Linked DNA regions of Homo sapiens: region 1 is linked to region 2. The links come from fine-mapping of genetic effects on gene expression. A gene starts in region 2. The other region holds a variant in brackets. All regions are shown on one strand. Distances are from middle to middle.

The links. PIP is the estimated chance that this variant, and not a neighbour inherited with it, causes the effect.
Region 1: its variant is fine-mapped to the expression of UBA6-DT in fibroblasts (GTEx, PIP 0.96).

What each region holds. Positions count from the first base shown.
Region 1 is chr4:68,507,209-68,515,555 of GRCh38, reverse strand. No RefSeq gene overlaps it. Among named protein-coding and RNA genes, the nearest start is that of TMPRSS11E, 64 kb to the right of the region's middle. The variant C/T (reference allele first, on the strand shown) is at 4,830.
Region 2 is chr4:67,696,845-67,705,132 of GRCh38, reverse strand. It overlaps UBA6-DT (UBA6 divergent transcript), which reads right to left and starts at 3,855. Exons shown (of 2, transcript NR_015439.1): 1 at 3,649-3,855. It overlaps UBA6 (ubiquitin like modifier activating enzyme 6), which reads left to right and starts at 3,978. Exons shown (of 33, transcript NM_018227.6): 1 at 3,978-4,084. The coding sequence starts at 4,014. RefSeq lists silencers at 3,885-3,954, 4,085-4,254.

The DNA of each region.
Region 1 (8,347 bases), 810 kb before region 2:
TCCCACCCAAATACTGGGCTTTTCCGACGGGCTTAAAAAATGGTGCACCACGAGATTATATCCCGCACCTGGATCGGAGGGTCCTACGCCCATGGAGTCTCGCTGATTGCTAGCACAGCAGTCTGAGATCAAACTGCAAGGTGGCAGTGAGGCTGGGGGAGGGGCGCCCGCCATTGCCCAGGCTTGCTTAGGTAAACAAAGCAACAGGGAAGCTCGAACTGGGTGGAGCCCACCACAGCTCAAGGAGGCCTGCCTGCCTCTGTAGGCTCCACCTCTGGGGGCAGGGCACAGACAAAAAGACAGCAGTAACCTCTGCAGACTTAAATGTCCCTGTCTGACAGCTTTGAAGAGAGCAGTGGTTCTCCCAGCACGCAGCTGGAGATCTGAGAACGGGCAGACTGCCTCCTCAAGTGGGTCCCTGACCCCTGACCCCCAAGCAGCCTAACTGAGAGGCACCCCGCAGCAGGGGCACACTGACACCTCACACGGTGGGGTATTCCAACAGACCTGCAGCTGAGGGTCCTGTCTGTTAGAAGGAAAACTAACAAACAGAAAGGACATCCACACCAAAAACCCATCTGTACATCACCATCATCAAAGACCAAAAGTAGATAAAACCACAAAGATGGGGAAAAAACAGAACAGAAAAACTGGAAACTCTAAAAAGCAGAGCGCCTCTCCTCCTCCAAAGGAACATAGTTCCTCACCAGCAACGGAACAAAGCTGGATGGAGAATGACTTTGACGAGCTGAGAGAAGAAGGCTTCAGACGATCAAATTACTCTGAGGTACGGGAGGACATTCAAACCAAAGGCAAATAAGTTGAAAACTTTGAAAAAAATTTAGAAGAATGTATAACTAGAATAACCAACACAGAGAAGTGCTTAAAGGAGCTGATGGAGCTGAAAACCAAGGCTCGAGAACTACGTGAAGAATGCAGAAGCCTCAGGAGCCGATGCGATCAACTGGAAGAAAGGGTATCAGCAATGGAAGATGAAATGAATGAAATGAAGCGAGAAGGGAAGTTTAGAGAAAAAAGAATAAAAAGAAATGAGCAAAGCCTCCAAGAAATATGGGACTATGTGAAAAGACCAAATCTACGTCTGATTGGTGTACCTGAAAGTGATGGGGAGAATGGAACCAAGTTGGAAAACACTCTGCAGGGTATTATCCAGGAGAACTTCCCCAATCTAGCAAGGCAGGCCAACATTCAGATTCAGGAAATACAAAGAACGCCACAAAGATACTCCTCGAGAAGAGCAACTCCAAGACACATAATTGTCAGATTCACCAAAGTTGAAATGAAGAAAAAAATGTTAAGGGCAGACAGAGAGAAGGGTGGGCTTACCCTCAAAGGGAAGCCCATCAGACTAACAGTGGATCTCTCGGCAGAAACCCTACAAGCCAGAAGAGAGTGGGGGCCAATACTCAACATTCTTAAAGAAAAGAATTTTCAACCCAGAATTTCATATCCAGCCAAACTAAGTTTCATAAGTGAAGGAGAAATAAAATACTTTACAGACAAGCAAATGCTGAAAGATTTTGTCACCACCAGTCCTGCCCTAAAAGAGCTCCTGAAGGAAATGCTAAACATGGAAAGGAACAACCGGTACCAGCTGCTGCAAAATCATGCCAAAATGTAAAGACCATTGAGACTAGGAAGAAACTGCATCAACTAACTAGCAAAATAACCAGCTAACATCATAATGACAGGATCAAATTCACACATAACAATATTAACTTTAAATGTAAATGGACTAAATGCTCCAATTAAAAGACACAGACTGGCAAATTGGATAAAAAGTCAAGACCCATCAGTGTGCTGTATTCAGGAAACCCATCCCACGTGCAGAGACACACATAGGCTCAAAATAAAAGGATGGAGGAAGATCTACCAAGCAAATGGAAAACAAAAAAAGGCAGGGGTTGCAATCCTAGTCTCTGATAAAACAGACTTTAAACCAACAAAGATCAAAAGAGACAAAGAAGGTCATTACATAATGGTAAAGGGATCAATTCAACAAGAAGAGCTAACTATCCTAAATATACATGCACCCAATACAGGAGCACCCAGATTCATAAAGCAAGTCCTAAGTGACCTACAAAGAGACTTAGACTCCCACACATTAATAATGGGAGACTTTAACACCCCACTGTCAACATTAGACAGATCAACGAGAGAGAAAGTCAACAAGGATACCCAGGAATTGAACTCAGCTCTGCACCAAGCGGACCTAATAGACATCTACAAAACTCTCCACCCCAAATCAACAGAATATACATTTTTTTCAGCACCACACCACACCTATTCCAAAATTGACCACGTACTTGGAAGTAAAGCTCTCCTCAGCAAATGTAAAAGAACAGAAATTACAACAAACTATCTCTCAGACCACAGTACAATCAAAGTAGAACTCAGGATTAAGAATCTCACTCAAAACCGCTCAACTACATGGAAACTGAACAACCTGCTCCTGAATGACTACTGGGTACATAACAAAATGAAGGCAGAAATAAAGATGTTCTTTGAAACCAATGAGAACAAAGACACAACATACCAGAATCTCTGGGACGCATTTAAAGCAGTGTGTAGAGGGAAATTTATAGCACTAAATGCCCACAAGAGAAAGCAGGAAAGATCCAAAATTGACACCCTAACATCACAATTAAAATAACTAGAAAAGCAAGAGCAAACACATTCAAAAGCTAGCAGAAGGCAAGAAATAACTAAAATCAGAGCAGAACTGAAGGAAATAGAGACACAAAAAACCCTTCAAAAAATTAATGAATCCAGGAGCTGGTTTTTTGAAAGGATCAACAAAATTGATAGACCGCTAGCAAGACTAATAAAGAAAAAAAGAGAGAAGAATCAAATAGACGCAATAAAAAATGATAAAGGGGATATCACCACTGATCCCACAGAAATACAAACTACCATCAGAGAATACTACAAACACCTCTACGCAAATAAACTAGAAAATCTAGAAGAAATGGATAAATTCCTCGACACATACACTCTCCCAAGACTAAACCAGGAAGAAGGTGAATCTCTGAATAGACCAATAACAGGATCTGAAATTATGGCAATAATCAATAGCTTACCAACAAAAAAGAGTCCAGGACCAGATGGATTCACAGCCGAATTCTACCAGAGGTACAAGGAGGAACTGGTACCATTCCTTCTGAAACTATTCCAATCAATAGAAAAAGAGGGAATCCTCCCTAACTCATTTTATGAGGCCAGCATCATTCTAATACCAAAGCCAGGCAGAGACACAACCAAAAAAGAGAATTTTAGACCAATATCCTTGATGAACATTGATGCAAAAATCCTCAATAAAATACTGCCAAATCGAATCCAGCAGCACATCAAAAAGCGTATCCACCATGATCAAGTGGGCTTCATCCCTGGGATGCAAGGCTGGTTCAATATACACAAATCAATAAATGTAATCCAGCATATAAACAGAGCCAAAGACAAAAACCACATGATTATCTCAATAGATGCAGAAAAAGCCTTTGACAAAATTCAACAACCCTTCATGCTAAAAACTCTCAATAAATTAGGTATTGATGGGACGTATTTCAAAATAATAAGAGCTATCTATGACAAACCCACAGCCAATATCATACTGAATGGGCAAAAACTGGAAGCATTCCCTTTGAAAACTGGCACAAGACAGGGATGCCCTCTCTCACCACTCCTATTCAACATAGTGTTGGAAGTTCTGGCCAGGGCAATGAGGCAGGAGAAGGAAATAAAGGGTATTCAATTAGGAAAAGAGGAAGTCAAATTGTCCCTGTTTGCAGAAGACATGATTGTATATCTAGAAAACCCCATTGTCTCAGCCCAAAATCTCCTTAAGCTGATAAGCAACTTTAGCAAAGTCTCAGGATACAAAATCAATGTACCAAAATCACAAGCATTCTTATACACCAACAACAGACAAACAGAGAGCCAAATCATGAGTGAACTCCCATTCACAATTGCTTCAAAGAGAATTAAATACCTAGGAATCCAAATTACAAGGGATATGAAGGACCTCTTCAAGGAGAACTGCAAACCACTGCTCAAGGAAATAAAAGAGGATACAAACAAATGGAAGAACATTCCCTGCTCATGGGTAGGAAGAATCGATATCGTGAAAATGGCCATACTGCCCAAGGTAATTTACAGATGCAATGCCATCCCCATCAAGCTACCAATGCCTTTCTTCACAGAATTGGAAAAAACTACTTTAAAGTTCATATGGAACCAAAAAAGAGCCCGCATCACCAAGTCAATCCTAAGCCAAAAGAACAAAGCTGGAGGCATCACGCTACCTGACTTCAAACTATACTACAAGGCTACAGTAACCAAAACAGCATGGTACTGGTACCAAAACAGAGATATAGATCAATGGAACACAACAGAGCCCTCAGAAATAACGCCGCATATCTACAACTATCTGATCTTTGACAAACCTGAGAAAAACAAGCAATGGGGAAAGGATTCCCTATTTAATAAATGGTGCTGGGAAAACTGGCTAGCCATATGTAGAAAGCTGAAACTGGATCCCTTCCTTACACCTTATACAAAAATCAATTCAAGATGGATTAAAGACTTAAACGTTAGACCTAAAACCATAAAAACCCTAGAAGAAAATCTAGGCATTACCATTCAGGACATAGGCATGGGCAAGGACTTCATGTCTAAAACACCAAAAGCAATGGCAAGAAAAGCCAAAATTGACAAATGGGATCTAATTAAACTAAAGAGCTTCTGCACAGCAAAAGAAACTACCATCAGAGTGAACAGGCAACCTACAGAATGGGAGAAAATTTTTGCAA[C/T]CTACTCAACTGACAAAGGGCTAATATCCAGAATCTACAATGAACTCAAACAAATTTACAAGAAAAAAACAAACAACCCCATCAAAAAGTGGGCAAAGGACATGAACAGACACTTCTCAAAAGAAGACATTTATGCAGCCAAAAAAGACATGAAAAAATGCTCATCATCACTGGCCATCAGAGAAATGCAAATCAAAACCACAATGAGATACCATCTCACACCAGTTAGAATGGCAATCATTAAAAAGTCAGGAAAAAACAGGTGCTGGAGAGGATGTGGAGAAATAGGAACACTTTTACACTGTTGGTGGGACTGTAAACTAGTTCAACCATTGTGGAAGTCAGTGTGGCAATTCCTCAGGGATCTAGAACTAGAAATACCATTTGACCCAGCCATCCCATTACTGGGTATATACCCAAAGGACTAAAAATCATACTGCTATAAAGACACATGCACACGTATGTTTATTGTGACATTATTCACAATAGCAAAGACTTGGAACCAACCCAAATGTCCAACAATGATAGACTGGATTAAGAAAATGTGGCACATATATACCATGGAATACTATGCAGCCATAAAAAATGATGAGTTCATGTCCTTTGTAGGGACATGGATGAAATTGGAAATCATCATTCTCAGTAAACTATCGCAAGAACAAAAAACCAAACACCACATATTCTCACTCATAGGTGGGAATTGAACAATGAGATCACATGGACACAGGAAGGGGAATATCACACTCTGGGGACTGTGGTGGGGTAGGGGCAGGGGGCAGGGATAGCATTGGGAGATATACCTAATGCTAGATGACGAGTTAGTGGGTGCAGTGCACCAGCATGGCACATGTATACATATGTAACTAACCTGCACAATGTGCACATGTACCCTAAAACTTAAAGTATAATAAAAAAAAGAAAAAGAAAAAAATATATGTAATTTCCTCTTAATTCTCTGAACATTTTGCTTTCCTTATATATAAGTAATATGCAATATATAAAATTGTTATGCTTATATATAAAAATATATGTATATATTTATTTTATTAATGTACATTATTTGAGACAATGGGGAAAGCTGAAGTGTGGCTCATTCAAACGTACTGGGATTTTGAATTTCTTCACCCACCCTTACCAAATGTCGATTTTGTGGGGGAACTCCACTGTAAACCAGCCAAAACCCTGCCTAAGGTAAATGTATTCATGTTTGATTTATTTGCTTTGCATTTCAGAAGGAATGGCCAGATATGTTTTCATTCAGAGTGTTTGACTCACAGTGAGAGAAATACGGGAGGTCAAAGAAAGTGACCTACCATTAGAAACTCATATGTTGCTATATCATCACAACTGTGTAAACTTTAGTGTCATTAAATATCAAAGAGGGATACTAAAGAGACTCTGAAAACAGGGTTGATTCAATGAAAGCCTTCATTGTGCAATGTAAAAAAAAAAATAAGTCATTCCTTCAAGGAATATTTATGAATTGATCAGCACAAACCACGGATAAGTGCTGGATTTTCAGAGAAGAAATGTAGGCACTTTCTGCTCCCTCATGCCTTACGTTGTACTTTGAAAGATAGACTATAAGCAAGTAAAAAGGAAAAGTCTAAAAGTGTTATAAGGTCACAATGCTAAGGAAACATGTAGAAGAGATCTCAAAGTCATTGATAAAGTGAGTCCTCAATAATGTCTAGGAGTAGATGAAAAGATGAGGGGGAGAGGAAAACACAAAAAGAAAAGCAGGTAGTGAAGTAAAGGCAGTGCCTAAGGTTTCAAATTAGTATGCAGGAAAAAGCTGAGTAAAGTAGCAGATGATGCTAGAGAGGTAAGTTGAAGCAATATAACTATAAGGAGATCTAAGTATCTATTAAGGGCAAAGGGGAGCTACTGCACAGAGTTCAGAAATGGAGAGATATTATCAGATTCCCTTTCTTTAAAAAGCTCTCAATGTTGTCAATGGATTACATCGCAAAAAGGCCAGATTGTGAAAAGTGTAGATCATTTAGAAGATTTTGCATGAGTTTATGCAACAGATAATGATGGAAAAGTGGACTAGAATGTTGATAGAGATAATTATGCCTACTTCTATAATAATGGCAATTACCTCCTATTGTGTCGTGTTGGAAATATACTTAACATAGATAAAACACTTATAATGTCTCTCATACATAGTCAGTGATTCAAATAGTAGTAATATTGTAATGATTTTTTATTTTTGTTATTACTATTAATAGTATCCATTAGTTAACATATGCCAGCCACTCGAGATATAATTCCTCTATTAATAGGAACAGTTTTCCGACACATCAAGGTTCTCCAGCAAAGTCCTAGAGAACAGATCCCCTGTGGATTTGTTTAAATATAGATGTTTGGGCAGTCAGATGAACAAGATGAAATGCTAACGGCGTAAGGGTTAAGGCTTTTCAAGGTACACTATTCATCAACGACATAAATGTGTGCCACCAGAATATTCACAGCCAAAGCCAATGTTTACTTGCTTTCACTCTAGCATTTAAAACATTAGTCAGTGAGATGACAGAGGTTTATATCTTAGAGCATAAAAGGGTCAGTTTACCCTTTTAATGTTTTCTGCCTTATACCAAGCCTATAGGACACCTCAGTAAAAATCTCTGGGAAACTTGGGACTCATCATCACAGCTGCCTGACAGAGAAGCACCAAAAAAAAATGAACAATGCATGTATAATAAGATCCAAATAATGTCTACCACTTGCATCTGAAAACTACACTGAGATTTACAAAAGAATTCTGTCAGGATATAGGATGATCTTCCTTACGAAGAAACAAAAGAACCTCATATATTTTACTTTAATGTTATTCTTTTGAGACATAAGCAGAAAGCAAGCATTCCTCACTACTTTATTATATAAGCCTTAAGAGATCTTTTTGTCTACCTTCTTATAAGCAGCAACAGAAAACTGAAATCTTACTTGAGTTAAAACTCAATGTTTATGTTGAATGAAAATTGCATAGGCTCTATGTGGTAATTTCCCAAAGGACAAAGGCAGAGGTAAGACCAATGAAAATTCTATGCACTCTAACCTTATTCTCAAAAAATTTTCCCATTCACATTAGAGGAAAGTGATGGTGCCATTAGAAGGGGGAAGAGAGTAGGTGGAGAAGGAAGACAAGGGCAAGAATGACTATTAGAACAATAGTGATAAATACTAATACTAGCTGTTGTTATTCATTTGCAGAAGGTAGGTTCGAATCCAGGTCAATAGTTGTGCAGCCTGTCCTCTACTTCTTTCTTACATAAAATAATTTTTGTCACAAATTTTCTTGCTTTTCCATTATGTATTAGATTCTCAGATAATGATTGCATATTTTAAAAGAATCAGACACTTGGGGAAAAGTATTAAGTATTATAAAAATGCATATAGACATTGGCTTCATAATATACTCATATGAAACTATACAGAGAACACCTAAATCACGATGGTCAGATTCAATATTTGTGGCAGACATTCATAAAATAAACACTGGAGACAATTCAAAT
Region 2 (8,288 bases):
AGCTAAAAAAGTGGATCTCATGGCAGTAGAGAGTAGAATGATGGTTACCAGAGGCTGGGAAGGTTGGGGGTAAGGAGGATGAAAAAGGTTGCGTAATGGGTACAAAAATACAATTAGATAGAGGAAACAATTTCTAGTGTTCGATAGCACTAGAGGGTGACTATAGTTAACAATAATTTATCATATATTTCAAAATAGCTAGAAGGCAAGATGTGAAATGTTCCTAACACAAAGAAATAAACAATGTTTGAGGTGATGGATATCACAATTACCTTGGTTTTATCATTATACCTTGTACGCAAATATCAAAATACCCCATAAATATATGCTTATTATGTATGTATTAATTTAAAAAGGAAATAAAACCATAATATTGCTGAACATTACACAAAAGCAACAGAAAAGGGAATTCTCTGAAATTAGAAAAGTTTTCCCAAAACCTGTGAGAAAGCAAATAAGCATAGAATAAGAAAGTAAAAATCTGCTTTGCCATTCATCAGCTATGGGATAACAGGCATAAATAAAGCCAGCTGTGAAATTAACAGAAAATACTATTTCTCTCTGGAAGATGCTTTAAAATGTCTCAAACACACACACACACACACACACACACACACACACACACACACCCTTAGAGTAACTGATTTTTTACTCACACAATGCCCTTTTCTCTAAAATCATAGAACATTTATGACAATATCAAAAGATTGTCAAAAACTCTGCTGTTTAAATCCTATTATTAAGATTGAAATATCTCACTCTTGGCTAGAATATCTAAAGTCACATTGACACAGAGAAATAGTTTCTACTTCTGAGAGGCAGAACTTTGCAATTTCCAAAAAACAGAACCCTGGGTCCATCTTGTATTACGTTGGTGCAAAAGTAATTGCAGTTTTTGCCATTAGTAATAGTTTAGATGTAGTGTAGAATTCTTTACAAACAGCCTTGCTTTCTTTTGAGTCTATCAAAGCACTACTTCATTTCAATTCCTTCTAAACTCCATACTTCCCCAAATTCCTACAATAAATCTATCTCTTCCTCTGTTGGTGAGGTACCCCATGGTTCTTCTGGAATGTGGGCTCCCTCCTTGCAATGAGCCAGTAAACCTGATGATATGGTCTGCTCTGTGTCCCCACCCAAATCTCACTTCAAATTTTAATTCCCATGTGTGCAAGGAGAGACCTGGTGGGAGGTGATTAGATTATGGGGGCAGTTCCCCCATGCTATTCTTGTGATAATGAGGGAGTTCTCATGAGATCTGATGGTTTTAAAAGTGGCAGTTTTCCCACGATCTCACTTCTCTCCTGCCACCGTGTAAGATATGTCTTGCTTCTCCTTCACCTTCTGCTATGATTTAAGTTTCCTGAGGACTCCCCAGCCATGTGGAACTGTGAGTCAACTAAATCTCTTTCCTTTATAAATTACCCAGTCTCGGGTATTTCTTTATAGCAGTGTGAAAACAGACTAATATACCTGACTTTCTTGGAATACAGTTTTGTTCCTGATAAACTTAGGCTTATTGGGCTAAGAAGCCTGTCTCATATTAGTTCAGGAACACCAATTTCACATAAAAATGAGCAATAACTCACGCCTGTAATCCCAGCACTTTGGGAGGCCAAGGGGTGGATCACGAGGTCAGGAGATCGAGACCATCCTGGCTAACACGGTGAAACCCCGTCTCTACTAAAAATACAAAAAATTAGCCGGGCGTGGTGGCAGGTGCCTGTAGTTCCAGCTACTCGGGAGGCTGAGGCAGGAGAATGGCGTGAATCCGGGAGGCAGAACTTGCAGTGAGCCAAGATCCCGCCACTGCACTCCAACCTGGGCAACAGAGCAAGGCTCTGTCTCAAAAAAAAAAAAAAAAAAAAAAAAAAAAGAGCAACAAAAAAAGCATCAAGTTCAAATCCATGCAGTTATTATGTGAAGAGAATAAGGAATATAACATCATCATCAAAGATAATAAAAACATGCCTGAAAGATGCACTACAAAACAATTTATTATTTTGAAACTAGCTAAATGACATTAGAGAAATGATAAAAGATATGGAAGAACTTGATTCTGAATTAGAAAAACCTCAGAAATGAGGTGACAGAACTCAGGAGAATTAGTAATAAAGAATAAACTACAAGAAACACAAAAGCTAATAAATGCAACAGATTATGATTTGCTGTAAAGAAACCGAGTCAATCCTTAGATCAATGTTTCTGTAATAATTCTGATTGTCAGACACTTTCTCCAATTAATTATTAAGGAGGGGCTCATGAAAACACTAGTCTCACCAAATTGATATATCAATTGTTGATAACAGTTTGTACCTTTTGTATATTAGTTTTGCTGAATGTAAAATCTTTGGCCTACATATTTTTCCCTTAAGTTTCCTCAATATGTCATTCTACTTTCTTATGACATAAAGCCTCACTGTCAAAAAGCTGTGATCGCCTAGTTTTCTTTCCCATTTTACATATGTGACAAAACATTAAAATCTGTTAAATCTGGTTGCTTGTTACATGCCTGAAATAATTCACACCATATTTTATCAAATCTAACATGCCCTCAATTTTAAGATGCATCGTTTTCTGTATTTATTTTTTAAAAATTCATCCTCTATTCATGGATGTTAAAATATGAAGAAGCGTGGGTAATGGCAGGCCATTGTTTTGGCCTAGCCTTCTACACTAGGCCCCATCAGATCAAACCAGAATGGAGTTGCTTGTGCTAAGCACCATGTAATTAAAGTGGATTTTGAAAAAATGAGCCAGTTTTTTTTAAAAAAACAGGAGATTCTAGTTAACCTAGTGGGCATAATAAGGAAGTATGCTCTGTTTTAACCTTTACAAGGAAAGAAACTTTGAAATAATCTGATTTTTGTTCTGTTTCTGCTTTCTTCAATCTTTTTCATTATCTTCAGTCCTGTAGCATTATCTTAGTGCTAGAGCAGAGCCTTGAAAGAATAGAACACAGATCAAGAACATTTTAATGTGGAAAAGGTTCACAACTGGATTGAGGAACACGGATAATGCTATAGGTGAGCAACATAAAGCTTCCAGGTATTTTAAGATGTGCAATTTTGAAGAGAATAGAGGGCACGAAGGATAATACAGTTTTGCCTGGACCCTCATCTCCATATGAGAGGAAAAATTTCTAATTAAAAATATGATACATCACAGAAAATTACATAATACCCAAAGTATATGCTAATTTTAAAAATCCTGCAGATGTTTATTCAAATATACAGTGTTATTTAGTGAAAGACAAATCCTAATGTTATTGTGTCCAACTCATTTTTGCTTTCTAAGAAAGGTGACACGGAAGTAAATGAAAAAGAATTATATGAGAACTTTTTAGATATGTGTTCTGGTAATCTAACAGTGACTAGCTCTATAACCTTGACCAAGTCACTTGCACTGACCGGAAGTTCCTTTCCCTTACCCACAAATTTAAGGGACCAAACTGGATGATCTAACGACATCTATGGCACTAAAAGTCACATGATTCTATTAAATCTGAGGCAGCGCCTCACATGTAGTGGACTCCCAAAATTATTTATTAAATGTATAACATCTTTAAGTGGTATCCCCTCACTGACAATCTGGAGCTATTAGCAGCCTTCAGTTTATTTATAAAATAAAGCTGTTTCCTCTTCTTACCGTTAAGACTCTTTTAAGGATTTGCAACGCTATCCCATCATTTCGCGGGTTACTAGAGTCCTGCATGTTTGGCTGTAGAGCAAGGGTGACGCGTAACTTCTGGACTTTGGTTCCATCTACATCTGCCGGATGCGGATGCCAGTCGCAACAGTAACGCCCCCTTCGGCCACCTGCACCACAGCACGCCATGCGGCCACACCCAAACCGGAAACCAGGACGCCCCTAGGGTTGACGGGAAGGCGCTGCCGGGCTCCTAGCTTCCCCAGGCCCGCCCCCTCTGATGACGTCTCCGCCCGCCCCTTGACCCCCCCACGGTCCCGCCCCTTCCTACCTTCCAGTAGCCGGCGGCGGTGTCTCAGGCGGCAATGGAAGGATCCGAGCCTGTGGCCGCCCATCAGGGGGAAGAGGCGTCCTGTTCTTCCTGGGGGACTGGCAGGTGAGAGGACGAGAAGGGCGAAGGTGAGGGGTCGCGGGTGGGACCCAGGCTCCGGGTTTCTGCTTCTTTCTTTCCGGCGGGCTGGGGGCGCCCGAGAGGCCGCGGGGCCGAGCAGAGCCGGCCCTGGGAGGCGAGGGGCGCGCGCGGAGTGGGTGTGGCGACGTGGGCTAGGGCCTCTGCTGTTGCCGGCTTTCCTGAGGGAAAAGTCCCCTTTCCGCACCTTTGAGGGCTTTCTCAGTTCTGGCTGGGATTCGGGATCCTCCTTCCTCCAAGTCACCAGACTTGGGGGGCTCCGGTCGAGAGCGAGTTCTGGTCTCGGTCACTTGGCGTGAGCTTCCCCGACTGGTGCCAAGCACCTTTCCTCCTTTCCGTAAAAAGAAAGCTAGGAGCGCCACTGTGCACCTCCACTGAGATCCTCTTTTGAAAACTATTACCAGAAGGAACTTGGTAAGAATGAATCAGTAGCAATCTGGACACCCTGAGGCCTTTGTTGACTTCGGAAGAAGGAAAAAAAAAAAGCCAGGAAAAAAAAATACACAAGTTACCCATTCTTATTTCCCACTTGGTTTTGAAGTTCTTCAGGTCTTTCCCGCCCCTGTAAAATTAGGGGGAAAATATTTGTGCTAGGCCTTTACCAATTTCTTGGTTAGTAGTTCCTCTTTCAATCATCTCATAATTAATAAAGCAAGTGGTTACATTCTATCCACCACTGTCAGAATACACCATGCCAAAGATAGAATTGATGGATGTATTATTTTCAGCTGATGTGAGACTTTGTAAACCTGTAGCCTTTTCGCCAGTTTCAGACTGAAGGGATGCTTTCAGTTTCATGGTGTTGTCTGCCATTGCCAACACTGCCAGAGTGGAGGGATATTATGTAATATAACCCGCGCCTTATTTGAAGCGTTTTTGATTGTCTTATAGATCATATTATTTTTACATATTTTTGAAACATTCCAGTGAGGCACAACTTTCTGAAAAGGGCCAGTCACGCCATTAAGTGGCAGAGCTAGTTAGACTGCAGCTGTTCTCGTTTTTATTCAGATTTACCCACCAGGCCTATTGCCCCCGCCATGCAAGGAAAACAGCAAGTGAAAGTGTACTAGGGATAAAATGATAGGAAAGTAGATAATAAAAAACTTTGGCCGGGCGCAGTGGCTCAAACGCTTGCAATCCCAGCGCTTTGGGAGGTCGAAGCAGGCGGGTCGCTTGAGCTCAGGAGTTCTTAGACTAGCCTGGGCAACATGGCGAAACCGCGTCTCTACAAAATACAAAAAAATTAGCTGGGCGTAGGTGATGCACGCCTGTAGTCCCAGCTACTCGGGAGGCTAAGATGAGAGGATCGCTTGAGTCTAGAGAGATCGAGGCTGCAGTGAGCCGAGATCGTGCCACTGCACTCCAGTCTGGGTGACAGAGAGAGACCCTGTCTCAAAAAAAAAGAAAAGAAACAAATTTTGTTAATTTTTATATTTTGTTACAATGCCCAAACAGGGTATATTGTGTATGTGTGTGTTTTTTATTAGGTAGGTGATCTCTTAGAACACAGCTATCTTCTGATTTGCCTTGGTAATTGGAATCAGTTTTTTTAATAGCTATCCGTTTAATTAGCTAGAAGCTGGTATCATTTGATATGTGCCAGTGTTTGGTGAGATAAATGATAACATTTTAATTACCTTTGTTTACAAATTCTTTGGCTTATTTATCAATGCTAGGACTAGAAAGTTGGATTCCAAGCCTGAATTTGATGCCATCGCATTGTTTTTAGAATCTTTTAATTGACAACTAGAGCTTCTCAGAACTAGGAATGGCCTCCACTTCTGCCAGTATATTGATCTCAGCTCTCACAGTGGTTCAGCTCCAAATGCTCCAGACTGGTTCCCTGTACCTGGGAATTATCTCTGCTTGCCAGTGTTTAGTACAGATACGTTTTTTGAAGGCCATGCTGTGAAAATGGGACGAGCACTGCTATAAATAATATGTTACTATAATAAGTATACTTTGTCAGATTTGCATATTTAGATTAGTTTTTTTCCTTTAAAATTTATTCATTTAACAGGGTTTTTTTGTTTTGTTTTGTTTGTTTGTTTTTTGACAGAGTCTTGCTCTTGTCACCCAGGCTGGAGTACAGTGGTGGGATCTTGGCTCACTGCAGCCTCCTCCTCCCGGGTTCAAGCGATTCTCCCACCTCAGCCTCCCAAGTAGCTGGGAATACAGGCGCCTGCTACTACATCTGGCTAATTTTTGTATTTTTAGTAGAGACAGGGTTTCACCACGTTGGTCAGGCTGGTCTCGAACTCCTGACTTCAGGTGGTCCGCCTGCCTTGGCCTCCCAAAGTGCTGGGATTACAAGCATGAGCCACCGCGCCCATCCCATTTAACAGGTTTTTTTAAGTGTTTCCTTTATGTCTAATATCAGAAACAGTAGGCAGTATGTGTGGTAGTCAAGAGCTAGACTGCCTGGGTTCAGATCCTGGCAGTGCCATTTGCCTGCTCTGTGACTTTGGGCAAATTTTAAGTTAACCTCCCTCAGCCTCTTTTTTCCATCTGTTCGTTGGAGATAGCAATAGTGCTTGCCCACTGTTTGGACAAGGTTGTTGTAAGGGTTAACTGAATAAGTACATCTAAAGCACTTAAATATGTAGCACAGGGTTATCTATTATTATTAAATGCCTGGTACTGTTTTAGGTATTTGGAATACAGTAGTGAGTTTTTAACAGACCATACATTTTTTTGGTAGTAGTGGCAGACAGTTAACGGTAAGTGATTTGAAGAAACTGACAGGTTAATGAGTTAGGCAGCAACCTAAGGATAAGAGTAGCCATTTTATTGATAGGGTGATCAGGAATGAGGTGTGTGGTATTTGTGACACAATATTTTAATAGAGGCTTAAGTGACAAGAAGTCAGCTATTCCGAGATTTTAAGAAAGAACATTCTAAGCAGAAGAAATAGGTAAAAACTCTGAAATGAGAGCAAGCTTGCCTTCTTGCGAAACAGCAAACAAGTCAGTGTGGCTTGAAGATAGTAAGCGAAAACGGAGACTGGTGGGAGTTGAAATTGGAGAGATAATTGGGAGACAGGACACATTGGCCCTCTCAAGCATAGTGAGGTGTTTGAATTTTGTTTTAAGAGTAAAGGAAATCCACTGAAGGGTAGTCCAAATTCAGGGAATAATTTCTGACTGCATTTTAAGATATTTAGACTGTTTTATGGAGAATAAAGGGGAAGGGCAATACTGGAAATAAGGAGACTAGCTAGGTCTTTGAAATAGCCCAGGTGAAATGTGATGATGGTTTGGCTTGAGATTGTACTGATTGAAATAGTAAGAAATGATCAGGTTTGAGATATCTTATGAAGGTAGAGCTAACAGGTCTCAGATGGAGAAAACTGGGGAATGATTTAAGCAAGAAGATCCCTAGATTTCAGGCCCAACCCAGTAAATGATGGTAGCGGAAAATGAGTTAGGAAAGACAGGAAGAATAGATTAAGCAGGGGTAATTGAATTCTCTTTGGAGTTTGTTATGTTTGTGATACCAGTTAAGACATCAGAATAGTTATTGTTTTGGCAGTTGTATACAATCTGGAGGTCAGAGGAAAGATCACACGTGGAGAAATAAGTTTCAATATAATCAATATATATTCATCAATAGGATTGAATGAGTTTATCTGGGAAGACTGTATATATAGAGAAAGTTCATGGTACAGAATTGCTGAAATACAGATCCATTAGAATATATGTACCAAACAGGCGGGCACAGTGGCCCACGCCTGTAATCCTAGCACTTTGGGACGCTGAGGCGGGTGGATCTCTTGAGGTCAGTAGTTCAAGACCAGCCTGGCCAACATGGTAAAACCCCATCTCTACTAAAATTACAAAATTAATTGGATGTGGTGGTGTGCACTTGTAGTCCCAGCCACTTGGGAGGCTGAGGCATGAAAATCGTCTGAAACCAGGAGGTGGACGTTGCAGTAAGCCAAGATCGTGCCTCTGCACTCCAGTCTCGGTAACAGAGTGAGACTCCCATCTCAAAAAAGAAAACAAACAAACAAACAACAACAACAACAAAATATATATATATGTATTTATGTACCAGTGATAAAACAACACCTGAGATCTGAGAATAAAAGATGATGAGCTCTGTAATCTTAAAATTTACACAGGATAGAACAAGCAATCCGATAATTTAATTTCAGGCCATTTAAAAA